Linked DNA regions of Homo sapiens. The protein of the gene in region 1 interacts with the protein of each later gene in a pairwise test. Each region holds a gene or a part of one and is shown in the gene's direction. Other genes may lie near its edges.

Region 1 (4,350 bases):
CAGCCTGGAGACTAGTCAGGGACCGCAAGAGTGTTCCTGGCCATGGGCATACCAGGGCCATCATTTTCTCCTGCCAGGATCAGGACTAAGTGGGTCTAAGGGGGCATCTAGTGAACTTGGGTTTCACTTGCTGCCTGCTTATCTGCAGTGATGGGCAATGAAATTATCTGCAGTGGTCAGCAAGTCAGCAGTAGAGCTGGGATGGAAACCCAGGAGTCAGAGCTTTCCCACACTGTGGTCCATCAGCGACCACAGGCTCCTTCCACACATGGTCCAACCAGGACCACCTGTAGTTACAACCTTGCCAATTACATCCTAGCTCTCACAGCCACACCTGTCCACAGACTTAACATGCTGAGGAACTTGAAAGCTGGGGCCTCCGATCTCTCTTACTGATCAGCCCTCAGTATTGGCTACTGTTTCACTTTTTAAACATAACACACACACAGATACACACACGTTCATTGTAGAAAAATTAGAAAAGACGGTAAGCAAAAAGAAGAAAATAACGATTGCTCCAAATGCTGCCTTCTTCATATTTTAATGTGTATCTTCTCAGATTTTTTTCCATGTATGTTACAATGTTTGCTTTTTTCCTTCAACATAATTTTTTCCTAATTAAAAAGTTACAATAAATTGTGAACAATGGTTATTTCTGAGTGCTGGAATTACTGGTGATTTTTATTTTCTTCTTTGTGCTTATGGAAATTTTCTGAGATTTTGAGGATATTCAGAACAATGAAGTATTAAAAATAAAATGGGAATATGGTTAGTGTTTTAGTATGACTGTAAAAGTAATATGAGTGGAAAGAGAATATCTAACATATACGCCGGTTAACAAAATTAAACCTTACAGAAGTAAGGCAACATATGATTGTTTTTAAATACCTCAAAAGTTACAGGAATACTGAAAGTAAAAAGTTTCCATAATCACATTCCTGGGAAGTAAACCACTGCCAACACCTTGTTGTATATTCTTACAACCTTTTTTCCTTCCGCTTATTTTTATAAAATTAGGAGCATAGTTCCGTTACTTGCTTGCTTCCTATCTCCTCTAGCCTTTGGTGTCCCCCAGTTTCGCCAGCAGGGAGCCCAGTTTGGGACATTAGGGTCAGCTAGCTTTCGGATTCTAGTTGAAAGGGCCAGGGCAGGGGCTTTCCTTCTCTCTGAGCCTCAGTTTCCTCCCATGTATAATGAGGTAACGCCACCTCTCCTTAGGGCTGTAAGACGTGGTCCAGTCGTGTAAGAAGTGTCCAGTACTAAGCGGACGCTCAGAAACCCCTTCCCCAAAGACTGAGCTCAGGGACTAGGACCCTGGGATCCCTGCTCCCAGCCAACTCCCGCTCCTGACCCTTCCAGGGACAAGCTCCCCCCACCCCCGTCCTTTCCAGGCTGCCACTAGAAGAGATGGGGACGCGTGGTCAGCTGCTTCTATCGCCCCCAGGGAACGGCCTCACGTTGGAGGGGGCAGTGCCCTCGGAACAGGACAGTCAACCCAAGCCGGCCAAGCGCGCGCGGACGTCCTTCACCGCGGAACAGCTGCAGGTACCGCTGCAAGCAGTGGGCGGCGGGGGCGGGGGCCGGGCCGAAAGTGGGCGGGGCCGACAATGTCTCCTGGCTCCGCCCCTCGGGCCGGACCCGGGTGGCGGGGCGGGGCCGCAGCTGCCTGGGGCGTGGCCTGTGGACTGGCGCCGCTGATTGGGCCGGGGTCTCGGAGTCTCTGCGTGCGAGCGCCTCACCGCCCTCCCCGCCCCGCAGGTTATGCAGGCGCAGTTCGCGCAGGACAACAACCCCGACGCTCAGACGCTGCAGAAGCTGGCGGACATGACGGGCCTCAGCCGGAGAGTCATCCAGGTGGGACGGGGGTGGGCGGGGCCTGGGGACCGCGGGCACGCCCCGGAGCTCGTAGCTGGGCTCGGCGCGGAGGGTGGTGCGTGCACGTGGCCATCCTTCTCCAGGAGGCGACGAGGCAGTCCCGCCTGGGGTCTCCCGGCGGCGCGTCCGACTCTTTTCCTCGAGGCTGAGGCTGCCGAGGCTGTCGTTCCAGGTGTGGTTTCAAAACTGCCGGGCGCGTCATAAAAAGCACACGCCGCAACACCCAGTGCCGCCCTCGGGGGCGCCCCCGTCCCGCCTTCCCTCCGCCCTGTCCGACGACATCCACTACACCCCGTTCAGCAGCCCCGAGCGGGCGCGCATGGTCACCCTGCACGGCTACATTGAGAGTAAGTAACCGCAGCGCCGGGAGCCGCTGGGCCTGCGGGGAGGGGGCGCGGAGGAGCGCACGTGGGCGGCTGAGGCCGAGGCGTGGGGTGGAGGGCCTTGGGGAGCCTCGTGGGTGAAGAAGCGGGACCCGAAGTCATTTGGATCTAGGAGTTGGGGGAAGAAGGGTCAAATCTTCGGCTCTGCCTCAGTGGAGCGGGATCCTTCATAGAGGCAAGCGATTCAGCAGCCATTCAAAAAATGCCTTCAAAGCACCCACAATGTGCCAGTGCCCGGAGACTGGGGAGAGAACAGGCTGGACAAGGTACCTACTCTGTGGAGCCTGCGTTCTGGTGGGCATGGAAAAATAGGCAGATGAGTGTGTCGTTTTAAGTGGGATGATTCCTGTAGGAAAGGTGCTGGGTAGGAGTGACTGGAGATGCTGCGGGGTGGAAGGGAAGGGGCTGGGCTGCCTTTCAGCAAGCAGAGACTGAAAGGATGGATAGGATTTAGTGAGGTACCTGGAGTGGGGGAACGGAATGCACGCAGGCCCTGGCCCAGAAAGCATCGTGGCATGGGTGTGTTCTGGGGAGCAGAAGGCCAGTGTGATGGGAGTGTCCAGGGCTGTGAGGCCTTAGGCAAGTCACCTAACCTCCTTGAGCCCTGGTTTCCTCATCTGTAACCTGGGATGTCAATAATGCCAGCCTCACAGGGTTGTGAGACACCATTCATGCATTCAGTAGCTATATCTTGAGTGCCTTCTGTGTTCTTTGCACTGGGATACGACAGTGAACACAGTAGACCAAAGCTTCTGTGCTCCTGGGGTTTGCACTCCAGCATGGGAGATGGTGGAGATGATAAAGTAACAGGGAGGGAGCAGGCATGTCCGTGGCAGGGAGTACTGTGGCGGAGATGCAGGGGCAAGCGGGTCATGGTGAAGTGACTTGTGAGCGGGAACCTGGAGGAGTGAGGGAGGAGCCCCGGGGATTTCTGGAGGATGAGTGTTCAGTGAATCTGCTGCTGAGCAGGTGCCTATCACAGATTGTCTTTCCCTTTGAAGTTGTTCCCATCAATTGTTTCCTCTAAGCTGGGCATGACCAAAAAAATGTAAATGACTGCGATGCACACAGACACAATTCCTCCCTTCTCTGGCTCCATGTAAGAGGGAAAAAGAAGGGAAATCAGACAGAGAACTGCTGCTTACTGACCATATGCCATATATTCTACTGACTGTGTCTCTAAACATCAGAGGCCACCATCTCCTTGAATAGATGAGGAAACCAAGGGCCCACTGTAAGTTAGTGGGAGCCGGTATGCCTTAATGATCGAGTGTGGGCTTTGGTTTCAGATTGCCAGGCTTCACATCCCAGCCCTGCCATTTACTAGCTGTGTGACAGTGGGTGAGTTTCTTAGCTTTCTTGCATACTCATTCCCTCATCTGTAAAAATGAGGACAACAGTATCTCAAAGCAGTGTTCTGAGCATCAAACGAGGTAACTGAAAATCCTCAACATTCAGCAAGTGCCGCATAAGTATTGGCTGCTCTTGTGATGGTGGGAGTGGTTTTGGTTGGCAGAACTAGGAGTGCAGAGCCCTGTCTTCGCACCAGGCTGCCAGTTGGAAACCATGTCTCTTTATATAGTTCCATTTCTGAACTATCTGCTCAATAGGAGCGACATTTTCCCCCTTTCTTTTCTAAACAATAACTATATTCAGGCTGCACAGAGCCTGTTAAAGGTGCCAAGGATCAGGGGCGCTATAAGTACCAGGGGTCTGAGCTACCTGCTAATACTTGGTGTAGAGTCAATAAGAAATCTAGATGATCCCTTTGGACTTGGGGCCATGACCTCCAGAGTCCCTGCCAGGACTCTGTCCATACACTCTGTTGACCAAACTTAGATCTGTCTTTGCTGCTTAGAGAAGAGGCTGAGGTGCCCTCTCCTCTTACCCTTGTGGTGGAACTCAGCTTGGGGAAGAAGAGGTTGGGGGTGTGTGCACCTGCACCTCCTGCTGCATGACTGACTGAGAGTCACCACAGCAGTTTGCTCTATGGTAAACTACAGTCATGGAGTTGTGAATTTTCTGAAGCCTTAAGCTGGGAAGCTAATGAAAGTGTTAGAACCAGACCCCAGAAAAATGAGTTTTTCTGTAG
Region 2 (4,350 bases), on another chromosome or scaffold:
TAATCCCAGCTACTCGGGAGGCTGAGGCACGAGAATCACTTCAACCCAGGAGGCAGAGGTTGCAGTGAGCTGAGATCACGCTGCTGCACTCCAGCCTGGGCGACAGAGCGAGACTCTGTCTCAAAAAAAAAAAAAAAAGAAGAAGAAGAAGAAGAAAATGCCAGGATTCTGGGTGTTAAAATTTTAAATAGGGTAGTTGAAGAGGTTCCCACTAAAAAGGTAACATTTGAGCAAAGACCTGAAGGAAGTTAGGGGGTAAGTCAAGCATACATCTAGGGGAAATTTATTCCAGTCAGGAAGAACAGCAAACACAAAGGCCCTGAGGCAGGAATGTGCCCTATATATTCAAGAAACATGAGGAAGCCAGCCAATACGGCTGCAGTATATTAGTGAGAGAAGAAATGGCAGATGTTGCGGTGGGGGTGAATTGGGGGCAGATCACACAGGCCACTGGCTTGTAGTGTGAGTTGTGAGTGAGATGGTAGCCATTAGAGAATTCTAGGCAGATAAATAACATGGCCTGACATATTGAAAAGGTCATTGTGGCTGCTGTGTTGAGAATAAGCTATAACGGGGCAAAAATGGAAGGAGAGAAACTGGTTAGGAGGCTACTACAATAGTCTAAACAAGAGAAGTTGGTGGCTTGAACCCAAGGTGAAGCAATGGAAAGGTGAGAAGTGGTTGGCTTCTGGATGTATTTGGAAAGGAGCCAACAGGATTTGCTGATGGACTGGATGTGATATATAAAAGAAATAGCAGTTGAGGGTGGCTACAATTTTTTTTTTTTTCAAGACATCTCGCTCTGTCGCCCACGGTGGAGTGCAGTGGCGTGATCTCAGCTCACTGCAACCTCCGCCTCCTGGGTTCAAGTGATTCTTCTGCCTCAGCCTCCTGAGTAGCTGGGACTACAGGTGCATGCCAGCGCACCCGGCTAATTTTTGTATTTTTAGTAGAGATGGGGTTTCACCATATTTGCCAGGCTGGTCTCAAACTCCTGAACTCGTGATCTGCCTGGCTCCCACATTTTTGGCCTAAGTAACAAAATGGTAAAATTCCCATCTACTGAAATTGGGGAGCCTGGAAGGAGGGCAGGTTGTTAGAAGGAGGAGATAAGGAATTCACTCTTGAACATGTCAAGTTCGAAGTGTTTTTTGGATATCAAAGTCGAGATGTTGAGTAAGCAGCTGGATATTCAAGTCTTTTGGAGCCTAGGAAATGTCTACTCTCAGGAAATAAAAGAACACCATCACCTGGCAAGAGACAGCGGAGTATGGGAAGAACACTGGTGGTCAGGTGTTAGGCCCTGCTCTGCCACCAGGTAGCTATGTGATCCTTTGGGACTCCTCTGGCAACGCAGGCCTCTGTCTCTTCATCTGCAAAATGACTGCTTTATTTTATTTTATTGTCTATTTCTTTTTTTTTTTTTTTTTTTTTTGAGACGGAGTCTCGCTCGTCACCCAGGCTGAAGTGCAGTGGCGCCATCTCGGCTCACTGCAAGCTCTGCCTCCCGGGTTCACGCCATTCTCCTGCCTCAGCCTCCTGAGTAGCTGGGACTACAGGTGCCCACCACCGCGCCCGGCTAATTTTTGTATTTTTAGTAGAGACGGGGTTTCACCGTGTTAACCAGGATGGTCTCTATCTCCTGACTTTGTGATCCGCCCGCCTTGGCCTCCCAAAGTGCTGGGATTACAGGCTTGAGCCACTGCATCCGGCCCCTTATCTGTTTCTTTGACAAGGTCTTGTTCTGTCACCCAGGCTGGAGTGCAGTGGCGCAATCATGGAGGCTCACTGCAGCAGTGACCTCTCCAGCTCAATCAGTCCTCCCATGTCAGCCTCCTGAGTAGCTGGGACTACAGAGATGGGCACCACCACGCCTAGCTAATTTTTGTATTTTTGGTAGAGAGGGTTTCACCATGCTGCCCAGGCTGGTCCTGAACTCCTGGGCTCAAGCCTCCACCTGCCTCGGTCTCCCAAGGTGCTGGGATTACAGGCATGAGTCACCACACCCAGCCAAAATGACCACTTTAGACTAGGAATGAGTTGTGTTCTCAGCCCCTCCTATTGTGGGAGTTGATGAATTAAGTGCTTAGAATAAACATGATAATATATGTGTATCTGAGAGCATTTTGGAAACTGCTGAGTTCTACACCAGGTAGTGGTATTGGCAATAAGATTTCTTCCTTCATTCGCTGAAGTAATACCCAGTGAGTGCCTGCCATGTGGTGGGCACTATGTCACATGAGGATACGATGATGGAGAAGACGAATCTGTGCCCTCAGGGAGCACCGCAGACAACCCCCTGTTGTGGCTTCACTGCCAAGTGCAGACGAAACATGGGGCTGGAGTGTGACATTAGCCAGGGAAAGCTTGTTCCTGATCTGGGTCTCCGTGGAAACAGTGAACGTGCATGTCAAAGATGAGGCAAGATGGTAATCCCGATGAGGGAAAAGTCATCCACTTAGCTGGACTAGGGAAGAGTTGGGAGTGGTTGGGAAGGGTTGGAGTGGTGGGGGCTTCAGTTCCTTCCCTCCTCCATTCTTTCGTTCAACATTTACTTCCTTGCCAGGAGCTTCTCTTAGAAGCTCACAGTTCTGTGGTAGATGAAGAGTTTCATATCTGGTCTCAGGAGTTCAACTTAGATATTACAATAAGCAGAACTGAATCAGGATTCAAATCTGAGCTAAAGAGCTCAGTTAGCTATGTAACCTAGTAGTATTAATCATTTGGTATCTGTGGGCACATTCTTTGTTAGGTGCTAATTAGGCTGAAAGGCATGCTCTCCAGGAACTTAAATTATAATCACTGTAACAGAAAGTAAGAATGTTATTTTCCCCTAAAAGAGTCAGGTGTTAAGGAAAACACACTCCGTGGCAGTGTAACCCTTTAACTGCATCTGGAAACTGTCCCTGTGGCTGTGTTTATTCTTGTGTCATTTAGATGTCTACGTTTATATCGTGAGGAGAGTCTCTTTGACCAGATAAGAGTATAAGATATAGCTCATCCTAATTGACAAAATTAGTCACCCACAAAATTAGTTTAGAGGAGACATAGTCAACATCTACCACGTAATGGAATGGGGAAATTTTGTCCTGGAGAGTGAAAAAAGAAAAAACAAACAAACAAAAAAAACGAAACCTGGCCGGGTGTAGTGGCTCACACCTGTAATCCGCACTTTGGGAGGCTGAGATGGGCAGATCACGAAGTCAGGAATTCAAGACCAGCCTGGCCAACATGGTGAAACCCCATCTCTACTAAAAATACAAAAATTAGCTGGGCATGGTGGCGTGCAGGAGAATTGCTTGAACCAGGACCCAGGAGGCGGAGGTTGCAGTGAGCCAAGATCGCACCATTGCTCTCCAGCCTGGGCTATAGAACAAGACTTCATCTCAAAAAGAGAGAAAAAAAAAAAAAAAACCACCTGCAATACAAATCCAAGTGCAGCTGAAGCCATTGTCTTTAACAGATGGCCCTAACCTGTTTTGAGTGCTGTTTCCTAAAGCTGCCAACAAACTTCAAATGCCTTTTACCCTGGCAGCTATCAGTCAAGATATAGAAATGTGATGGTCTCACAAATCCTATGCAATTGTCTCTTTTGCTGGCAAAAGTATGAGGCCAGCCGGGTGTGGTGGCTCATGTCTGTAATCCCAGCACTTTGGGAGGCTGAGGCGGGTGGTTCACCTGAGGTCAGGAGTTCGAGACCAGCTTGGCAAACATGGTAAAACCCCATCTCTACTAAAAATACAAAAATTTGCCGGGCATGGTGGCAGGCGCCTGTAGTCCCAGCCACTGGGGAGGCTGAGGCAGGAAAATAGCTTGAACCTGGGAGGCGGAGGTTGTGGTGAGCTAAGATCATGCCATTGCACTCCAGCCTGGGCGACAGAGCGAGACTCTGTCTCAAAAAAAAAAAAAAAAAAAAAAATGTATGAGGCGTACTCAGGCTCCTCTCTTCCAGTTCAGAATCAGAAGGATTTGTGATGTTGGACAGGTCATTCGGGGTCTCAGGCTCATTATACTGTCATTACCTGGAAGCCAGAGTGCCTCTTTTCTAGTGCCTCTATTTGACATTCCCTTAGAGCTGGCCCTCTGGTGAATAGTTCATCCCTAAGAAGGCCAGATACAACTTGTTACCCTGGTACTATCTCACTTCATCACTTCATTTGTTGGGAGTTCCTGCTACTTTTGGATGGTTGATAAAGCATGAGACCCATACAGTTAAGATAAGAACCAAGGAACTGGGAGCTCTTTGAGGTTGTAGAACTGACTTGAGGCTTTGATGTTGGGGATTTGGCAGGGGTGCCTAAGACCAGAGTTCTTTCTCTGAGATCATCTTCTCAACCCAGGAAATACTGT
Region 3 (4,350 bases), on another chromosome or scaffold:
GAGTTAATTTTAAATATTTTATGAAGTGTGAATTATACCTTTTTAGATGGAATTTGGAATACTGAATCAGTGACATGCAGTTTATCAATATCTTTCCGTTTGTCCTCAGATTTCCAAGTTCTGCAAGCACAAGTTTCTTTGACTTAGTTACCTTTTAACTGTTCATTGAAATCATTTTCAATGTCTCTCATGGCATTTAACACATAGCACATTCTATAAATTTTTTATTGGTTACATTCTGAGTTCTAATTGAGAGTTGAACTTACACACAGAATTTAAGATAAAAAATGACCATGTGAAGACACAATAGTATAGTCCAGGGATTGGCAAAATTTTGGGTAAGGAATCAGATAGCACGTATTTTAAGCCATGAGATCTATGTCTTGGCCAGGTGCCGTGGCTCAGGTCTTTAATCCCAGCACTTTGAGAGCCCGAGGCTGGTGGATCACTTGAGCCCAGGGGTTTGAGACCAGCCTGGGCCACATGGTGAAACCCTGTGTCTACAAACAACGCAAAAATTAGCCGGGTATGGTAGCATGCATGTGTATTGCCAGCTACCCAGGAGGCTGAGGTAGGAGGATGGCTTGAGCCATACAGCTCACTGCAGAGGTTGCAGTGAGCTGAGATCGAGCCACTGCACTCCAGCCTGGGTGGCAGAGTGATACCCTGTCTAAAAAAAAGAAAAAAAAATCTATGTCTCAATTCTGCTGTTGAAGTGTGAAGGTAGTCATAAACAATAACTAGTGTGGCTGTGTCCCAATAAAACTTCATTTATCAAAACAGGTGGTGGGCTGGAATTGTCTTGTATGTTGTAGCTTGCTGACTACTGATAGAGTGGAAAGAACATGCACTAATCACACAAACCAAAGTTTTAGTTGAGACTACATCACTTATCACCTTTAGGGTCTTGGGGAAGCGTACTTAACATCTCTGAGCATCACTTCCCTGATTAGTAAAAAATATGATTTAGAAAACTGCAACTACCTTGCAGTTTTTGTGGGAATGTCATAATAAGACAGGACATATGAATAATTGAGCACACTTTTATATATAGGAACCATGGTTATTATTATCAAATAAACTCTCCAACGGAATAATTACTTTGCCAACACGTTTTCCATTTATTCTTTTATCCTTCATTACATAACTAGTTTGAAAGATTGGAGGCGACCAAAGACCATTTTATAATTTCACTTATGGCTGAAGATGTTTGGTAGAAGCCTCATAAGAAAAGTAATCTCATTCCTTTATAAGAATATACTTTTAACAACTACTTTTTAACTCATTGAAGAACTACCTTAATGATCAGTGTTATTTTTATGGGTTTTGTTCCCTCCATTTTTGTTATCTGCGTACACCAATTTTCAATCAACATACTTCAATTTAATAGACAAAAATTTCTTCAAATGACTCAGAAATTAATTAGATCTAAATCCAAAAGCAGAAAGATTTAATTATCTTTATATAATGCTCAGTAATATAAATGCAATAAATACAAGAAAATGATGATCTTTGAGTGTCTTCCAATGCCACTCTGCTCAATAAGCAGCAGTGGCCATCAGTGAAATTGATAGCAAATTCTCAAGTCAAAATGTGCTTCACCTCACTAAGCTGACAAAGTCAACATAACATGCACAACAGGGATAACTGAGTTCTCAAAACTCTCAGGTATTACTTCTGACCTTCTTCTCCACTCTGTGCTCTTTTGAGGTTGGGAAGACAAGATAGGGTGTGTGTGGGACACCTCCGCTCAGGGAAGCCATCAGCTCTGGTGTCCCTACAGCATTTATACCTTGCTAGTCACATAACCACTTGGCACCTATTTTGTAGGTGTACGTTATCAATTACAGATTACTCATAAATTAAAGGCTAACCATCAATTACAGATTATTAGTAAATAATTATGACCTCAAAGAACAACTGATTGGTTTGATACATGGTAACCTTATGAGGACTCTCATTTATCTCGTTTTTTTAAGTTATATACCTATCTCTTTGGGGTTGCACTACAAAAATATAAAATATGTTGCATAAGATATTTATAAAAAATAATTAATTATAAGTTCTAATGGTGTGGTTTAGTGGCATTCTTTTTTTTTTCTTTTTTTCTGAGATAGGGTCTCAATCTGTCATTTCACTCCAGGCTGAAGTGCAGTGGTGTGATCTCGGCTCACTGCAACCTCCGCCTCCTGGGTTCAAGTTATTCTCCTGACTCAGCCTCCTGAGTAGCTGAAATTACAGGCATGCACCACCATGCCCGGCTAATTTTTGTATTTTTAGTAGAGATGGGGTTTCACCATGTTAGCCAGGATGGTCTCGAACTCCTGATCTCATCATCCCCGACCTCGGCCTCCCAAAATGCTGGGATTACAGGCGTGAGCCATTGCACCCGGCCTAGTGGCATTCTTTTTTAAAAATAAATTTAATTGTGTATATTTAGGGTATGCAACATGATGCTATCAGATACATTAGACACTAAAAAATTACTATATTGAAGCAAATTAATATATTCATAATCTCTCATAGTTACCTTTTTTGTTGTTTTTGTGGCAAGGGCAGCTAAAATCCACTTATTTATCATGAATCTCAAATATAGTACAATTTTATCACCTACAGTCCTCATACATTAGATCTGTACACTTTTTCATCTTACACATCTGCTACTTGCTTGGATCCTATGGCCTATATGTCCCTATTTTCTACCTACTTTTCCACCCCTATTAACCCTGTTTTTTACGTAGTCTCTGTATATTTGAATTTTGTTTCAAGCTTCCACATATATGTGAGATAATGTAATATTTTTCTTTCTGTGTTTGGCTTATTTCACTTAGCATAATTTTGTCTGGGTTCATCCATGTTGTAAATGGTAGGATCTTGTTTTTTTAGGGCTGACTGATATTCCATTGTATCTATGTACCACAATCTTTTTATCTACCTATCTATCAGTAGACACTTTAGTTGTGGCTATTATGTTTTTCTTTTTTTCTTTTTTGGAGACAGGGTCTTGCTGTCACCCAGGCTGCAATGGAGTGGTGTTATCATAGCTCACTGTAACCTCAAACTTCTGGGCTCAAGAGATCCTCCTGCCTTGGCCTCCCAAGTAGCTGAGACTACAGGCATACATTACCATGCCTGGCTAATTTTTAATATTTTTTGTAGATATAGCATCTCACTCTGTTGCCCAGACTGGTCTCAAACTCCTAATTCAAATTTAGAATAGAGTATGACAATTCTGTAAAATATAAAAAACATGTCCACTCCGTATAGGAAGTTATACAATGAGAAGAAGACAAACACTATTTACATTACTCTTGATAAGTTTTTTACAAAGAAATAAAACACTTTAATTTCTAATGTTTTAAATTCTGGTTTGCTAAATAAATAAATATTAGTTTTAGTGTTTTTAAAATTCCTTATATAGTTATAAGTGATCTTCCTGCCTCAGCCTCCCAAAGCACTGGGATTCCAAGCAAGAGCCACTGTGTTGGGGCCCTTGGAAACAGATATGCTGAAATCTTTTCTTGTGGATCTACACCCAGAAGAGGGATTGCTGGGTCATATGCTACTCTATTTTTAATTTTTCTTTTATTTTTAGTGAATATGTAATAATTGTATATAATTGTGGGATCCAGAATTATATTTCCATACATGTATACAATGTGTGATAATCAAATTAGGGTAATTAACATATCCATTACCTGAAACATTTATCATTCCTTTGTGGTGGGAACAGTAAAAATTAAAAATTCTCTCTTCTAGATTTTTGAACATATGCAATAAACTATTGTTAAGTATATCACCCTACAGTACTACAGAATGCTAGAACTCATTCCTCATATTTGGCTCCAATTTCATATTCTTTAACCAACCTCTCCATATCCTCCCCTCCCTCTTACCGTTGTCAGCCTCTAATAATCATAATTCTACTCTCTACTTCTATCTCATTGTCTTTGATTTAGAATATGTTTCATAATTTAACCAAAGGTCAAATTCTTAGGTACTGCTAAGGCAAAGAACAAAGATCGCATTCCAGCTGTTAGACATTTCTTACTACTAGTCATTTTTAAGACAACATGGGGTGCAGGTGGTGAGGATGAGAGATAGAGATTGAAACATATTCTCTTAAATATCAGCTGTTCTCACTCTGCATAGTTCCAGCACAAACAAATTCCAGGTACTATGGTTAGTTAAATAACACCAGCCACTAACAACACAATTCAAATTTCTGTTACCACAGTATACCGAAAGTCATTGCATAAAGTACAAACTTTGCTGCTAACTCTTCAGCCTTCAAATCATTACATAAATAACAGAAACCCATTATAATCAGTGACAAAACCACAGCACTTC
Region 4 (4,350 bases), on another chromosome or scaffold:
CTGTGGAAATCTACTACTTTTAAAGTTTTTTTGGTACTTCAATTATGCATGTGTGTTTTTGTGTGTCTGAATGTGTATAAAATCCAATGGAGGCCTGACACGGTGGCTCACGCCTGTAATCCCAGCACTTTGGGAGACTGAGGCGGGTGGATCATGAGGTCAGGATATCGAGACCATCCTGGCCAACATGGTGAAGCCCCCACTCTACTAAAAATACAAAAAGTAGCTGGGCGTGGTGGTGGTGGTGCATACCTGTAGTCCCAGCTACTTGGGAGTCTGAGGCAGGAGACTCGCTTGAACCCGGGAGGCGGAGATTGCAGTGAGCCGAGATCGCGCCACTGCACTCCAGCCTGGGCGACAGAGCAAGACTCCCTCTCACAAAAAGAAAAAAAGAATCCAACAATATTTTAAATATTGTTACATATAGCCAATATTCATTCAGATTCACCATGTATCTACCATTTTCATTCCTCTTCATTCCTCCCTGTACAAACTTCAATCTAGATTTGTTTTTTCTCTACCTAAAGAATACCTTTTAGTATTTTCTATAATGCAGATCTGTTGATGGTGAATTCTTTTAATTACTGTTTGTCTGAACATGTCTCTATTTTGCCTTCATTCTGGAAGGATCTTTTTGCTCCATATAGAATTCGCCATTGACAATTCTTTTTCTTTAGCACTGTAAAGATATTCCATTGTCTCCATTGTCTACTGGCTTCCATTATTTTTGTTGAGATGTAAACTGTGAGTTCCATTGTTGCTTATTTGGAGATAATATGTATTTTGTTCTAGAGGCTTTTTTTTTTTAATGGAGTTTCTCTATTGTCGCCCAGTCTAGAGTGTGATGGAATGATCTTGGCTCACTGCAACGATCTTGGCTCACTGCAACGATCTTGGCTCACTGCAACCTCCGCCTCCCGGGTTCAAGTGATTCTCCTGCCTCAGCCCCCCGAGTAGCTGGGATTACAGGTTCCTGCCACCATGCCCAGCTAATTTTTGCATTTTTAGTAGAGATGGGGTTTCACCATGTTGGCCAGACTGGTCTCAAACTCCTGACCTCAGGTAATCCACCCACCTCGGCCTCCCAAAGTGCTGGGATTACAGGCAGGAGCCACCACACCCAGCCTGTTCTAGAGGCTTTTAACGATATTTTTTCCTGTTTAGTTTACAAGATGTCTTTGATTTATAGCAGTTTAATTCTCATCTGCCTCAGTGAGGATTTCTTTTTGTTTATTTTTCCTGTTTGGGGCTAGGCCTTCTTGAAACTGTCTTATTATCCTTCTTCAGTTTGGGAAAATTCTTAGCCATTACCTCCTCAAGTATTAACTTCTGCCCTATTATCTCCCTCTCTTCCTCCTCCTAGGATTCAAATTATGTGTCTGTTAGCCCCTCTCAATGTATCCTATGTGTCTCTTACCCTCTCCTCCATATTGACCATCTTTTTGTCTCTATGTTCACTCTGTGGAGTCTCTTCTAAAGCTCTAATTAGAGAATCCAGTTCCTGAATTCTTTCTTAATCCATGTCTATTCAACTGGAAAGCTCATTGCATTCTTGATTTCAGTGGTGTATATTTTAATTCTACAATTCTCATAGACCTTTTTTAATTAATTAATTATTATTATTATTATTATTTATTTTTTTTTTTTTTAGAGACAGAGTCTCACTCTGTTGTCCAGGCTGGAGTGCAGTCTTGTGATCATAGCTCACTGCAACCTCTAACTCCTGGGCTCAAGATCCTCCTGCCTCAGCCTCCTGAGTAGTTGGGACTACAGGCACGCATCACCACACTAGGCTATTTTTTTTTAAATTTCTGTAGAAACGGGGTCTCATTTTGTTGCCCAGACTGGTCTGAAACTCCTGGCCTCAAGTGATCCTCCCTGTCTCAGCCTCCCAAAGTACTGAGATTACAGGCATGAGCCACCATGCCTGGCTTCATGGATCTTTTAAAAACAGATTCTAGTTTCCTATCAAAATTCTCAAGCTGTCTTTAATCTTCTTAATTATTGTAAGCATAGTCTTTGTAAAGTCTATATGTATGACTCTATATGAGAAGCCCTGGTGCATCCTTTTTTAAGATCTGATATTTTGCTAGTGCTTATACAAGCTATCTGGTCTCCTCATGACCACCACCCCCCTTTTTTAAATTGAATGCTTTTATTTGCAAAATTGTGAAAGTAATTCAAGACCTTAATCCAGTTTTAGGGACTCAGATGAGTCAATCTGAGCTTCAGACCTTGAAAGGCCTGTTGGCTTGTGGTTCACTGTCTCCTCTAAGGGACAGTGCTTTGGGGTCACAACTCAAAAGAATGGGGCTCACCAGAGAACACCCTCCCTTGGTGTATCCTGAACTCCATTACCTGTTCCCTATGCTCTTAACACTATCAAAAGCCCACTTGGTTTCCCAACTGCTCCACTTTGGAATGTTCAAGTGCCTTCAGGAGAAAACAGGCCCCCAACACCAGCTTCACCTCTCTGGGCCATCATCTTTTCCTGATCCAACCCAGGAAGTGTGTGTGTGTGTGTGTGTGTGTGTGTGTGTGTGTGTGTGTGTGTGACGGAGTTTCACTCTGTCGCCCAGGCTGGAGTGAAGTGGCATGATCTCGGTTCACTGCAGCCTCCGCCTCCCGGGTTCAAGCGATTCTCTTGCCTCAGCCTCCTGAGTAGCTGGGATTATAGGCGCCTGCCACCACACCTGGCTAATTTTTGTATTTTTAGTAGGGACAGGGTTTCACCATGCTGGCCAGGCTGGTCTCAGAGTAAAGTGGCACGATCTTGGCTCACTGCAACCTTCGTCCCCCGGACTCAAACGATTCTCCTGCCTCAGCCTCCTGAGTAGCTGGGATTATAGGGGCCCACCACCACACCTGGCTAAGTTTTGTATTTTTAGTAGAGATGGGGTTTTGCCATGGTAGCCAGGCTGGTCTCAAACTCCTGACCTCAGGTGATCCACGCGCCTTGGCCTCCCAAAGTGCTGGGATTACAGGCATGAGCCACCGCGCCTGGCCTTTTTACTATCTTATTTGCTGTCCAGTACTATAAGAAAAAAAGTTTAAACATTTTGTCCAGAGTTTTTAAATTTATTTGTTTGCTTATATTTTTGTTCAGAGTTTTTAGTTGTCCTCAGAAGGAGGGTTGGTCCAAATTACCTAGTCTACTACATCTAGAAAGGACATTGGAAATTGACTTTTTTTTTTTTTTTTTGAGACGGAGTCTCACTCTGTGGCCCAGGCTGGATCGCCCAGTGGCACGATCTCGGCTCGCTGCAACATCTGCCTCCTGGGTTCAAGTGATTCTAGTGTTTCAGCCTCCCAAGTAGCTGGGATTACAGGTGCCCGCCACCACGCATGGCTAATTTTTTTTTTTTATTTTTAGTGGAGACGGGGTTTCCCCATGTTGGCCAGGCTGGTCTTGAACTCCTGACCTCAAATGATCCACCCACCTTGGTGTCCCAAAGTGCTGGGATTACAGGCATGAGCCACTGTGCCCAGCCACCAAGCATCCTTTTAGGGGCTGGGGACTCAGTGATAAACACACTGTGCCTGCTTCTTGGAACTCACAGTCTCACTCTGATCCATGTTTAGTCCTGTCCTGTATGATAATAGCAGTTGTCCATTGAGCTCATAAAATCTAAGACCGCGCTGGGCTTGTGAGCCACCTGCAGAGCCTAGCTTGGTGCTGAAAGCTAAGTGGGTGCTCTGTCATTACTGGGGTTCGATTGACTGGTTCTAACAGAGACCAGCTATAGAGCTAACACTTGATGGAATATTTTGAATATTGATGACCTTTTCACTGGCTTCTGCCTATGGCAAGTAGAGGTACAACCCAAAGAGAAGAGCCTCATTTATAGTGTGTGGCTGGGGGAGAGGGAGGTTTGCAAACTGAGTCATTTTCCCCCATTCAGCCTGTGTGTGTCTGTGTGAGTTCATACCTGTGTGTGTGCATAAAATCAAACAAGAATAAAATGTTTTCATTTGTTCCCTTCCTTCTTCCTCTCTCTGTCTCTCCCTGTTTCCACAGGTCAGCGTTGAAGTTTTGGTAGAGTATCCTTTTTTTGTGTTTGGACAGGGCTGGTCATCCTGCTGTCCGGAGAGAACCAGCCAGCTCTTTGATTTGCCGTGTTCCAAACTCTCAGTTGGGGATGTCTGCATCTCGCTTACCCTCAAGAACCTGAAGAACGGCTCTGTTAAAAAGGGCCAGCCCGTGGATCCCGCCAGCGTCCTGCTGAAGCACTCAAAGGCCGACGGCCTGGCGGGCAGCAGACACAGGTATGCCGAGCAGGAAAACGGAATCAACCAGGGGAGTGCCCAGATGCTCTCTGAGAATGGCGAACTGAAGTTTCCAGAGAAAAT
Region 5 (4,350 bases), on another chromosome or scaffold:
GCCCCTGAGCTGATGTCCGTCGAGTCTGGGCAGACCAGCTGAGGGGCTGTGGGCCCACACAGACCTGGACAAGCATGTTCACTTTGGGAGGAGGCAGGCTGACCCTTCATAGATAATCTCTTTCAAACAGAGAGGCAGGGGAGGAAAGGGACGCAGCTCAGGCCAGGGGTGGTGAGTTAGGACGTTGTCCTGCGCAAGGGAAGTGGCTGTCCCTGGTGCCGTGGGGCAGTGTGCTTCCTGAAGGTTCCACGCCTCAGGGAAAGATGAAAGTGGGTGTCACAAAGGTGTTTTTTCTAATGATACCTTTTTTTTCAGATTGTAAGAGTATTTTATGCTTATCATAGAAAACTTGGACTATGTAGAAAACATAAAGATACAAATTACTCATAACCTTGAAGCCCAGAAGCAACTCCCCATATTTTGGTGTATTTCCTTCTGTGTTTGTTGTTGTTGTTTTGAGATGGAGTCTCACTCTGTCGCCCAGGCTAGAGTGCAGGGGTGCGATCTCAAGTCACTGTAACCTCCACCTCCCTGGTTCAAGCAATTCTCCTGCCTCAGCCTTTTGAGTAGCTGAGATTACAGGCGTGCATTACCACACCTAGCTAATTTTTGTATTTTTAGCAGAGACAGGGTTTCATCAGGTTGGCCAGGCTGGTCACAAACTCCTGACCTCAGGGGATCCACCCTCCTTGGCCTCCCAAAGTGATGAGAGTACAGGCGTGAGCCACCATGCCCAGCTTGTATCATATTTTAAGAGTTACATTTATTATACAGAGTCTTCTCTTTGAAAATTAAACTGATGATTTTGAAAAACTAACAGTGGCATTGTTAGCCAGAATTTCTCACCAACCCAGCCTGCTGATTCCAGAGCAGTTGGAATGACCTGGAGGGGGCTCAGGCGGCCCACACGGCTCATTGTTGGGTGCCAGGGATAGCCCAGAGGCTGCTGGGGCAGAGCGTGCAAGGGAGGAGGCCGGTTGGCCCCGTGTTCCCCCAGCTGCACACACCTTCTGATGTGCAGTTGTGCTTTCTGATTTGAAAAGAAATACATGCTCATGTGGAAAATTTTGGAAATGTTCAAAAGGAGAAAAACATCCAGACCCCCGTGCCAGTCCTCCTGCCCTCTGCTTGGTTGTGCCAGTGTCCCAGGCCGTTGGGGGTAAAGGGAGGAAGGCAGCTGCTGACCAGCGGTAAAACCTGCTCTCCCTCTCCCCGCTGTCCAAGCCTTCCTTAGAAAGGGCTGGGCTGTGTGTGAGACAGAGGAAAGCTCTGTAGACACAGGGGTGGCCCTGCCAGTGCACCCAGGCTGGTGACTGCAGTGAGTCCACCCTGGGTTCAAGACAGCTCTGCCTCTTTCTGACTGTGTGACCTTGAGTGAGCCAGAACACAGGCCTGTGCCTCCGGGTCTGCACCTCTGAGAGAGGGGAGGAACAGGAAGAGGCTGCCTTCTTCCCGCCAGCATGTAGGGGGCACTTGGGGGCGTCTGGTGGGAGACCAGTCTGGCCTCCCAGCTGGAGAGTGGGCGTGGCGCGATGTCCTCTTGAGTCAGATGTCCATGCATCCTTCCCTGGTAACCAAGTCCTGACACCTTCTATGAGTCTCGCTCGAAAGCCTTCCAGGCAGAGTTGGCAGGGTCAGAGTGGCACCGAAAGCCTAGGCAGGGCACACAAGGCCTTTGACCACATCCTATCCCTCAGGCATCACGTCCGAGAACGAACGGGAGGTGAGGCAGCTCTCCTCCGAGACCGACCTGGAGAGGGCCGTGCGCAAGGCAGCCCTGGTCATGTACTGGAAGCTCAACCCCAAGAAGAAGAAGCAGGTGGCCGTGGCGGAGCTGCTGGAGAATGTCGGCCAGGTCAACGAGCACGGTGCGAGGATTCACCCTGGGCACCAGCCTTCCCTGGGCGCCAGCCTTCCCACAGGAGCCAGGACCTTCCCATAGGGGCTGGGACCTTCCCTCAGGGGCTGGGTCTTCCCACAGGAGCCGGGACCTTCCCTGTGAGGACAGGGCCCTTCCTTGTGGGGACCAGGGGACCAGAACCTTCCTGTAGAGACCGTGCCCTAGTGGTGAGGTGTGTGGGTGGCATTTTGACAGCATCTGCCCTGGCTCAAGTGCTCACTCATTGAATAAACCAGAGGGTATTCTGCCCAGTGCTCTGTGACCACGTCTACCAATGGGACGGACTGTGTCCATCACCAAGTGGGAGCACGCTACGTGGTGCTGAGTCCACCCCAGCTACTGGAGGTACAGAGGTGTGGCCCCTGCTCTGCCTGCCCTGGGGGCCCTATGATCCCCAGAACGTAGGATGCCCCTGGAACTGGCGTGCCCTAGGAACAGTGCGCCAGTTTCTGGTGGGCTGCAGGGCACGAGGAGATAGTCAACTTGTCTGACTGTTAATCCACCCTGTCCCCTGCAGATGGAGGGGCGCAGCCAGGCCCCGTGCCCAAGTCCCTGCAGAAGCAGAGGCGCATGCTGGAGCGCCTGGTCAGCAGCGAGTGTGAGTGCAGCCCCTGCCCCGTCTCACCCATGCCTCCCAGCCTGCACCTGCAGGGCGACCTCTCCTTCCTGTGCGACTCCATCCTGGCCTGCCCTATCTCACCCGTGCCTCCCAGCCTGCGCCTGCAGGGCGACCTCTCCTTCCTGTGCGACCCCATCCTGGCCCTGCTAGGATCTCAGGCGGTCCGTTTGGGGCTCAGTGTTCTGGACGCTGGGAGTAGACCCTGCCCACCTGGAGCGCACGCACTGGAGGGAAGGCAGACCCAGGACAGAAACCATGATGTGCCAGTCCCTCTTGGACAAGGAAATACTGGGGGTGGGGACTGGCGGGGGGGTCCTGAGTGGGGAAGGATGAGGAGGGCATTAGGGGAAGGGGCTCCGGGCAGAGGGAACAGCATGAGCAAAGGCCCAGGAGACCCAGCAGGGTGTGGAAGGGGCTCTGCCCCAGCGTAGGCCCTTTGTAGGTAGGCAGGGAACAGAGTGGGCAGAGCCTAGGTTGGGGGATAGAGTCTCTGGGGCACACTGAGCTGGGGGTGCCTCTGGGATGTTTGTGGTCAAAGACTGAGAAGAGACGTCACATCCTCCACGTGCAGCTGGCCAGCCTCACTGTCTTCCATCCACGTGGGGTAGACTCTGCAGTCTGAGGCACTGGGAGCTCCTGTCCTGGAGAAGATAGACAGGCAGGAGGCTTGGGGGCTCAGTATCAATGGGGGGATGGGCCAAGACCCAGGTCTGCCACAGACTCTTCTTGTGACATGGGCAGGTCTCATTTTTCTTTCTGGGTGTCAGTTTCCCCTTCTGAACAGTGAGATGATCAGACAAGGGGACTGAAGGACCTCGCCCATCCTAGAAGCCTCTGTGGCATGTAGGGCAGAGTACAGGTGGGAGCACAGATCCCACCTTCCCACTGGGCCCGTGAGGAAACCGTCCATAGGGTGTGGTCAGAGCCCTCGCCTCTGCGTGGGCGGACATGGGTGCTTGCGCTGCTGTTTTCCTGCTCCATTTGGGGGAGACAAAGAAACACCTCACATGGAAGTGGGAAGAAATCTGTGACTCTAGGAAGCCCGAGGACCAGAGAGGCTGTGACAGTGTCCTGCCACCGAGGTGGCATGGTGCCTGCTGTCCTGAAGTGAGGTGCCTCTGGGCAGGAGCAGCCCAGCCTGGGTCTCCATCCTGGGGGGCACTGCAGGCAGAGTCTGGACCCCAACCTCACTTCCCAGTCCCACAGGGGTTTGTGATGAGCCGGGCACACCTGCTGCTGGGCCCTGTCGCTGTTGCTGGGGGCGAGTTAGGAGTCAGCGCTGCCAGCCTGTGGTCCCCTCCGCCAGGCCCTCAGGGACAGGGCCCCAGCACCCCCATTGTTTCCCCTCTATCAGAACGTTCCCATCAGGCATCATCTGTTTCTCTGCCAGCTTTTCCAACAGAACTCCCAGAAAGGGGCGTCTGTCATCCCCTTCTCTCGTCCTCCGTCCTTTGCTCTCAGGCCTCTGCCATGTTATTCCACCAAAGCGGCTCGTCTAGGCCATCAGTGACCCCCCTTGCTCAGTCACTTCTTGTCCTTGTCTGACTTGATCTGTCAGCAGCGTGGGCAGAGATGACTGCTCTTCTCCTTAGAGCCCTCTCCCCCACCAGGCCCGGGGCCCTTGCTGCCACACTGGCTGCTCCTTCTTGGGGTCCCTAGACTGATGTCCTGTCTCTCAGGACAGGACATCCTGCCCAAGGTATTCATCCCTATGAGGACAGGGGCCTTCCTTGTGGGGACCAGGGTCTTCCCGTAGGGACTGTGCTCTGGTAGGGAGATGTGTGGGTGGCATTGGTGACCACTCTCGTGTGTCAGACGCCGTCCTGAACCC
Region 6 (3,500 bases), on another chromosome or scaffold:
TGCCAGAAAACATTTTAAGTTTTGACTTACTTAAAGCCTTTACATTACAAATGCCTTTATGTTATGTCTAAAATAGAAGATTGGTTGCAGTTATTACCAGTGCTTTTGTTCTTTAGAGTCCATAAAACAGACCTGGAACGAGTGTTAGAAGCAAATGATGGCTCAGGAATGTTAGACGAAGATGAGGAGGATTTGCAGAGGGCTCTGGCACTAAGTCGCCAAGAAATTGACATGGAAGATGAGGAAGCAGATCTCCGCAGGGCTATTCAGCTAAGTATGCAAGGTAAAGACATTCTGATGTGTGTTGTATTCATTGCTGAAGAATTGATTCCAATTATTCTTAGATTTCATGGAAGTTAATGTACTCTTAGAGGTGTTTTGACAATTACTGCAGAAGCAATAGCTATATAGTGGGCTTTCCCTTTAGATTTCTTATAATGGAAATCACTTTTTACAACCTATATTTTATTAGGAGTAGTTATATTTTTACTCCTGGTTATTTTATTTGGTTTCAACACTGTACTAACACAATAGTAAATTGTGGTTTTAATCTTTGTGGGTATCAGTTGACCCTTATCCAAATCAGCTGTTACATAAATATGTGCCATTAGACACTATGGAAGGGCCTGGACAGGGAATATAAACTGATTTTACAAAAACCCAACATTTATTGGCTATGCAACTTAAACCGTAAGCCCACTTTGGTGGGCCCAGTTTTTTAGTGATATAAACTATCAATAGAGAAAAGCGAAAACATATCCCCTAGACAATCTAGGCAAAGAAAAATGTTAAGACATAGCTCAAAGTAGCTTAATTAAAAGTTTGAAGTGGGTTTTTTGTTTTATTTTTTTCTAACTCATATGTATTTGCTTCTACTTTCTAATGAAATTATTTATCAGTTGATTTCCTTAGATATCTAAATAAAATTGAAATTTCATTAATGGGAAGATTATTTTTATCCTGAACTTTTCTTGCCTCTATGCATGCCTCTGAGTACTCCATATGGTGTGCAATCCCATTTTTGATTAATAGAGTCCTGCTGGATTAGCAGGGACAGAAATCAGCTTTAGATTTCTTTCTTTTTTTTTTTTCTTTCTTTTTTTTTTTTTTTTTTTTTGAGTCAGAGTCTCACTGTCGCCCAGCCTGGAGTGCAGTGATCTTGGCTCACTGCAACCCCTGCCTCCGAGGTTCAAGCGATTCTCCTGCCTCAGCCTCCTGAGTAGCTGGGACTACAGGCGCCTACCACCACGCCCAGCTAATTTTTTGTACTTTTAGTAGAGATAGGGTTTTGCCCTTTTGGCCAGGCTGGTCTTGAACTCCTGACCTCAGGTGATCCACCTGCCTTGGCCTCCCAAAGTGCTGGGATTACATGTGTGAGCCACCACGCCCAGCCAGAAGAGTAGAATATTCTTAAAGAGAAAACGTTTTAAAGGCTTACTCAAATGAGTATAAACAAACATATTGTTGCTTGAATTGGTAAATACAGTGATTGGTTTTTGTTGTGTTGTGTTTTGTTTTCAGGTAGTTCCAGAAACATATCTCAAGATATGACACAGACATCAGGTACAAATCTTACTTCAGAAGAGCTTCGGAAGAGACGAGAAGCCTACTTTGAAAAGTAAAGTAGTTGGTACAAGTTAAAGTAGCATGTTTAATATTTGCTTTGGCTATTTTGTCTATTTGTAAATGGTTACTGCCTGAATCCTGTGAATATTTGAATGTATTTTTTAAAAATTTACAGCAAATAGGACGGGCACGGTGGCTTACGCCTGTGATGCTAGCAGTTTGGGAGGCCAAGGCGGGCAGATTGCCTGAGGTCAGGAGTTCGAGACCAGCCTGGGCAACACAGTGAAACCCCATCTCTACTAAAAATACAAAAGAATCAGCTGGGCATGGAAGCGTGCGCCTGTAGTCCCAGCTGCTTGGGAGGCTGAGCCAGGAGAATTGCTTGAACCCGGGACGTGGAGGTTGCAGTGAGCCGAGATCGCACCACTGCCCTCCAGACTGGGTGACAGAGTGAGACTCCGTCTCCAAAAATATATGTATATATATATAAATAAAAATAAAAATTTACGGCAAATAACATGAAACAAAAAAACCTTGCCCCAATACTGGATAAATTTTTTAAACTGAGTGAAGGAAACCTTATAAAATTTCATTTATTAAAAGAAAAATGAAATTAGGACAAGACAAGAAGAATGCCAATTGATCCTTTGGATGTACTTCTTGCTTACCTGATTAACCCTGCAAAATTCCTCTACCAATCAGTACGAAAAACAGCTTTGGAGGTATGGGAGCGCATTCCCAAATAGACGTGGTAGTTCATTTAGCTGCTCATGGCCGCTTCAGGCAGTCCTGTAAGCCTGTTAGCATCAGGGGAATGGATGCAAACCATAAATCTGGATCAACTCCTAAAACCTTACCTTGTGCCCAGCCTTGTAAGTGCTTGCTAAATAGGAATTCCACCATATGAAAATACATTCTTTTCAAGTAACTATCATTCAGACTTTTGTCCCCCACTTTTTTTTTTTAAAGAAAAATAAAAGGCTGGGCACGGTGGCTTACGTCTGTAATCCCACCATTTTAGGAGGCCAAGGCAGGTGGATCACCTGAGGTCAGGAATTCAAGACCAGCCTGACCAACATGGTGAAACCTCATCTCTACTAAAAATACAAAAATTAGCCGGGCATGGTGGTGGGTGCCTGTAATCCCAGCTACTTGGGAGGCTCAGACAGGAGAATCGCTTGAATCTGGGAGGCAGAAGTTGCAGTGAGCTGAGATAACGCCATTGCACTCCAGCCTGGGGGACAAGAGCGAGACTTCGTCTCAAAAAAAAAGAGAAAGAAAACTTCATGTTAAAGATTACAAGATAAATAATCAGACCCACTGATCCTAGGTCAGAAAACAGAGTCATAGCTCAATCTGACTTACTATTTGCTGTATTTCATCCATTCTGAGATGCACATAGTTTCACATTTCAATGTCTCTGAAATTGAGAAGCATCTTACAGTCATAATTGACAGTATATTAGCAGCACCTATAAATATTGGCTCATTTTACATTTGATGGTATAATGAAGAAAATATTTACCTTTTTTTCTGTTTTGTTTTTAAGTCACAACTCAGAAGTAGATGAAGGAAAATTCTGATCAGCTGACATCCTCTTAATGTGAGATATTTCTAGTCTTTATTCAGTATAGATTAATGGCTAATTATATGTTAAATTTCAAAGTAGTGCTTATTAGTGCTTTTTACTTTTAAGTTTCAAAATTAACTTTTTTATTATAATAAACTCCAAATTTATACAAAAGTAGAAAAACTAGCATACTCCTGTTTATGACCCAGATTCAACAAATACTAGCACACGGCCAATCTTGCTTTTTTTTTTTTTTTTTTTTGAGATGGAGTCTTGCTCTGTTGCCCAGGCTGGAGTGCAATGGCACAATTTCTGCTCACTGCAACCTCTGCCTCCTGAGTTCAAGCGATTCTCCCACTTCAGCC
Region 7 (4,350 bases), on another chromosome or scaffold:
CCCAGGCTGGAGTGTAGTTGAGCGATCGTAGCTCACTGCAACCTCCGCCTCCCGGGATTAAGCGATTCTCCTGCCTCAGCCTCCTGAGTAGCTGGCATTACAGGTATGTGCCACCATGCCTGGCTAATTTTTGTATTTTTAGTAAAGACGGTGTTTCACCATGTTGGCCAGGTGGGTCTCAAATTCCTGACCTCAGGCAGTCTGCTCTCCTTGACCTTCCAGAGTGCTGGGATTACAGGCGTGAGCCACCAAGCCCGGCCCTTGTGTTCTTTTTGGTAGAAAGAGCTAACTTAAGAGAAGTGAGTCTGAGTGCACTGACTCACACCTGAAATCCCAGCACTTTGGGTGGTTGAGGCAGGAGGATTGCTTCAGTCCAGGAGTTGGAGATTGGCCTGGGCAATGTAGGGAGACCCCTTCTCTACAAAAAGAAAAAAAAGAAAAGAAGGAAAAGTAAAGAAAAAAAATAGCTGGGCATGGTGGCATGCGCCTTTAGTCCCAACTACTGAAGGCTGAAACAGGAGGATCCCTTGAGCCCTGGAGGTTGAGGCTGCATTGAACTGTGATCATGCCACTGCACTCCAGCCTGGGCCACAGAGCAAGATCCGAGAGTGAGAGAGAGAGAGAGAGAGAATGAATGAATAGTTAGTATATGTTCCACAAAGAATGTAGGACTTTTCTGGGCACTAAAGAATGAGTGGCGGCATTAGAATAGTAGCATGGAAAATAGTCCAGCCAGGGGACAGAACAAAGGCAAAGAAGCGGGAATGGGCTTAGCAGCTCTTAAGACAGTGCAGAGATTTGTCTGATGGAGGACCAAGGCTGAGTGGTGGGAATTAATGGGAACTGACTGTAGTGTGAGGCCAGATTGTGGTGGGTCTGAAAAGCTGGGCAGAAGGATCTAGTTTAGTTGCCATAGTTAAAAGACATTTGGAGGTGTTTTGAGCATTGGAGCTATGTAGGTAACATTTAGGAAAACCTCTCAGGCAAGGATATGTGGGAAGAGGGAATGAAGGGAGAACTTGGAGTTTCCCAAGAAAGCCAACTAGAAGGATACACTAGCCTTGGGCCAAAAAATTAGAATAAAGGTGGGGCCGGAGAAGAAGGGATAGACACCAGAGACGTTTCAAAGAAAACAAAAGAACTGGACTTGCAATGTGTGACTAGGTAAGTGTTGAAGGAGAAAAGTAAAGATAACTTTGACATTTTTAGTTTGAGTGGCCGGGGAAAGGGTGGTTTTCTACTTGCTAAGATAAAAAAGTTGAGAAGACAAGTAGATTGGAGAGAGGGTAGGGTAGGAGTTTAAGTGAAGAGGCTGATGCTGAGCCCACCTTTCAAGTAACATTGAGTTATTGGAACTCAGTTGGAAGGCCTGGTGGGAGAGCCGAAGGAAGACTTGAGGGTGAAAGATATCCACGTCCAGGTGCCAACGTGACCCAGAACTGAGGAGCATAAGGAACTATTGGTGCAAATAGGGTGAGGCGTCAGAAGTGAAGCGATCACCAGAATTAGGGAATATAGAGGGTTCCAGGTGGATCTGAGCAGACTCTGTCAGTCTAGTATTCTCCACAGTGAGTGCTTTCTGATCACTTTAGGATTTCTGTTTTGTTTGTTTGGTTTAAGACAGGGTCTTGCTCTGTCACCCGCTTTAGGATTTTTGTTTTGTTTTGTTTTGTTTTGTTTTGAGACAAGGTCTCACTCTGTCACCCAGGCTGGAGTGAAGTGGCACCATCATGGCTCACTGCATCCTTGACCTCCTGAGCTCAAGCGATCCTCCTGCCTCAGCCTCTCTAGTAGCTGGGACTACAGGCACGTGCCACTGTAACCGACTGAGTTTTGTATTTTTGGTAGAGACAGAGTCCCACTGTGTTGCCCAAGCTGGTCTCAAACTCCTGGTCTCAAGCATTCTGCCTGCCTGAGCCTCCCAAGGTGCAGGGATTATAGGCATGAGCCACTGCACCCAACCCACTTTAGGATTTTGTTAATTTAGAATTATTTAGCCTTCTCATTTCATTTTCTCCAGACTCTCCTAGGTATGAATATAAAGAATTCTCCTTTTTGGAAACTGTTAATGGTATTCAAAGAAAAGGGAGTTTATGAAAGTCTATATCAATTTAATCTATACCTCTGAGAAAGCCATTTTTTTTAACATGAAGAAGTATAAAATATTGTGTGTGAAGATTAAGCCCTTTCTTGCTCTATGTATTTGAGCCTAGAAAAAGACACACTCCCAAGAAATTAGAATAAAGGGAAAAATGACTTTGAGATGTACTTTCTTAAAATAACTGAAGTAATGACCGCATGAGCCAGCTGATGGGTTTTTAAATGGATACGTTTCTATCAGCCTGCTGCTTGATGCCAGAGCCAAATATATATGGAGTGTATTATATCATATCCTGTAGGCAGGAGACTGTTGGGGCATTGGGGGACTTAGAGAGGTGAAGTGGCAGGCTTGGCACAGGAATTAACAGCATGGCTACCGTCAACCAGAACTTTATTAGGTCAACATTACTGATTGGGTTCATGGTTCCCTATTATGTAACAATTTGTATCATCTTCTCGTAAAATAATATCTAATATTTATTATAAGAATGATAAGAATACCTGATATTTATAGAAATCTTTAATATTAAAGTGTTGCTGTACTCATTCTCTCATTAATACTTAATTATTCTCATTTCTGTTTTTTCTTGTTTTACTTTGTAACTACAAATCCACACCCCCGAGTCTGATTCATTGCTAAAAGTGGCCTCTTTTTGGTTTTCAGCTGCAGGGGCAGTATGGGTGCATCCTTAGTTGCAGGATGCTACTTATATCTGGAGTGCTATAGACCACCAGGTTAAAAGGAAGACAGTAGGTCTGGGAAGGAGGAATAGATCATAAATTGATAAACTGCTTTTCTTGCCAGAAATCATTATCAGCGATTAAGAATATTCACAAAGTAGACCCTCCCCCAACACACACAGAGTGTGGTTACTATGCCAGGAAATAAGAATGGCAGTTGTCTTTGTGGTTTAAAACCTGTTTGGTCTGGATTTGATTTGTAAAATAAATCTGAATGAAGTCCATAATGCATTTAAATTCACACATGCTTTACTATGTCTATATGTCAGACTCATGGACAGTGGCCTAGCTTACTGGAAAATTTCTAGAAGAGTTTTAGGGTTATTTTCCCTTTTTATTAAGTTAAAGGCCTGTTTGTTTTCCTATATTTTATAATCAGCCACCTTATTGAATTCTCATTATTGTTTGTAGTAGTTTTTCATTTGATCTCTTTGGAATTCTCTAGATATAAGGTGACTTCATCTATAAATAATAATGATTTTATCAGCTCGCCTCTTATTTCTCTCTTATCTAATTGCATGGATTCCTACTTCCAGAACAGTGTTGAAAACACCCCGAGTTTGGCACCTTACATGCATGAAAACTGTAGAAGGGAAATAAGCTATAGTACCAGTAATATCTTGGGAAGCAGAAATTAAACTTAGGGGTAGATATTCTTACTCTTAGAGGAACAAGTCTACAAAATGCAGCCTAAGGTGCACTTTATCAACATATTTATAATTCTCAACCACCCATGGAGATATAGGAACCTATGGAAAACAGTGGGTTTTCATCAGTCACATCTTAGAATTCTCTGGGACCTTCCTGGAAACCTCTCTGTTTTATAAGGTTAGAATTTAAGGAGTCATAAACACACCCCAGATGTCTTTCATGAGTATTGATGACCACACTGTTCTCTTCCAGGCCCAGCTTCGGGCATTTATCCCAGAGATGCTCAAGTACTCTACAGGTCGGGGAAAACCAGGCTGGGGGAAAGAAAGCTGCAAGCCCATCTGGTGGCCTGAAGATATCCCCTGGGCAAATGTCCGGAGTGATGTCCGCACAGAAGAGCAAAAGCAGAGGGTGAGAGTTCCTCTGACTGAGTTGCCTGGTTGCTTTTCCATCCTAAATTAACCACCTCAATTTTTGTCATTTCTACATCTTGTGCTAGAAAGTCTTTGTGTAATAGTTAAGCCTGTCCCTCCAAAGACTGATATTCTTTGATTTATAGCCTTTTCCATTTGTCGCTCCATCACTATACTATAAAGAGAAGACTGGGTTGAGTTGATGAATTTAAAATGTGTCTTCGGGGTTGCCTTTTGGAGCAGTTTTAATTTTATGAAGTGCTTGGGAAAGTCAAAGAAACTTGAAGTAAAAGTATTAATCACTTTGAACACTTAGAAATGCTTTTATTTCTGGTTACTAAAAATCATTGTTGAAAATGTAAATATGGAATTAGAGGGATATGAAGTCTGCCAGCTGAGTCTGCTAATAACAAAACTTTTACAAGAAAGACTAAACTACCTACCA

The links.
Region 2: the proteins of LHX6 (region 1) and ZNF76 interact in binary tests that used the Homo sapiens proteins (3 or more experiments, as listed by UniProt).
Region 3: the proteins of LHX6 (region 1) and SNCA interact in binary tests that used the Homo sapiens proteins (3 or more experiments, as listed by UniProt).
Region 4: the proteins of LHX6 (region 1) and ATXN1 interact in binary tests that used the Homo sapiens proteins (3 or more experiments, as listed by UniProt).
Region 5: the proteins of LHX6 (region 1) and WFS1 interact in binary tests that used the Homo sapiens proteins (3 or more experiments, as listed by UniProt).
Region 6: the proteins of LHX6 (region 1) and ATXN3 interact in binary tests that used the Homo sapiens proteins (3 or more experiments, as listed by UniProt).
Region 7: the proteins of LHX6 (region 1) and NRF1 interact in binary tests that used the Homo sapiens proteins (3 or more experiments, as listed by UniProt).

Annotation. Positions count from the first base shown.
Region 1 is NC_000009.12:122,211,478-122,215,827, reverse strand, and holds part of LHX6 (LIM/homeobox protein Lhx6), read left to right. Parts: intron 1-1,391; coding exon of another isoform or gene 1,392-1,402; exon of another isoform or gene 1,403-1,444; coding exon 1,445-1,545; intron 1,546-1,758; coding exon 1,759-1,854; intron 1,855-2,047; coding exon 2,048-2,222; intron 2,223-2,431; coding exon of another isoform or gene 2,432-2,592; exon of another isoform or gene 2,593-4,350. UniProt on the Homo sapiens protein: Probable transcription factor required for the expression of a subset of genes involved in interneurons migration and development.
Region 2 is NC_000006.12:35,265,385-35,269,734, forward strand, and holds part of ZNF76 (zinc finger protein 76), read left to right. Parts: intron 1-4,350. UniProt on the Homo sapiens protein: May be involved in transcriptional regulation.
Region 3 is NC_000004.12:89,829,812-89,834,161, reverse strand, and holds part of SNCA (alpha-synuclein), read left to right. Parts: intron 1-4,350. UniProt on the Homo sapiens protein: Neuronal protein that plays several roles in synaptic activity such as regulation of synaptic vesicle trafficking and subsequent neurotransmitter release.
Region 4 is NC_000006.12:16,306,528-16,310,877, reverse strand, and holds part of ATXN1 (ataxin-1), read left to right. Parts: intron 1-4,018; coding exon 4,019-4,350. UniProt on the Homo sapiens protein: Chromatin-binding factor that repress Notch signaling in the absence of Notch intracellular domain by acting as a CBF1 corepressor. Binds to the HEY promoter and might assist, along with NCOR2, RBPJ-mediated repression. Binds RNA in vitro.
Region 5 is NC_000004.12:6,289,500-6,293,849, forward strand, and holds part of WFS1 (wolframin), read left to right. Parts: intron 1-1,697; coding exon 1,698-1,868; intron 1,869-2,417; coding exon 2,418-2,498; intron 2,499-4,350. UniProt on the Homo sapiens protein: Participates in the regulation of cellular Ca(2+) homeostasis, at least partly, by modulating the filling state of the endoplasmic reticulum Ca(2+) store.
Region 6 is NC_000014.9:92,079,083-92,082,582, reverse strand, and holds part of ATXN3 (ataxin-3 reference isoform), read left to right. Parts: intron 1-116; coding exon 117-283; intron 284-1,521; coding exon 1,522-1,618; exon of another isoform or gene 1,619-1,630; intron 1,631-3,114; exon of another isoform or gene 3,115-3,168; intron 3,169-3,500. UniProt on the Homo sapiens protein: Deubiquitinating enzyme involved in protein homeostasis maintenance, transcription, cytoskeleton regulation, myogenesis and degradation of misfolded chaperone substrates.
Region 7 is NC_000007.14:129,705,331-129,709,680, forward strand, and holds part of NRF1 (nuclear respiratory factor 1), read left to right. Parts: intron 1-3,744; coding exon 3,745-3,903; intron 3,904-4,350. UniProt on the Homo sapiens protein: Transcription factor that activates the expression of the EIF2S1 (EIF2-alpha) gene. Links the transcriptional modulation of key metabolic genes to cellular growth and development.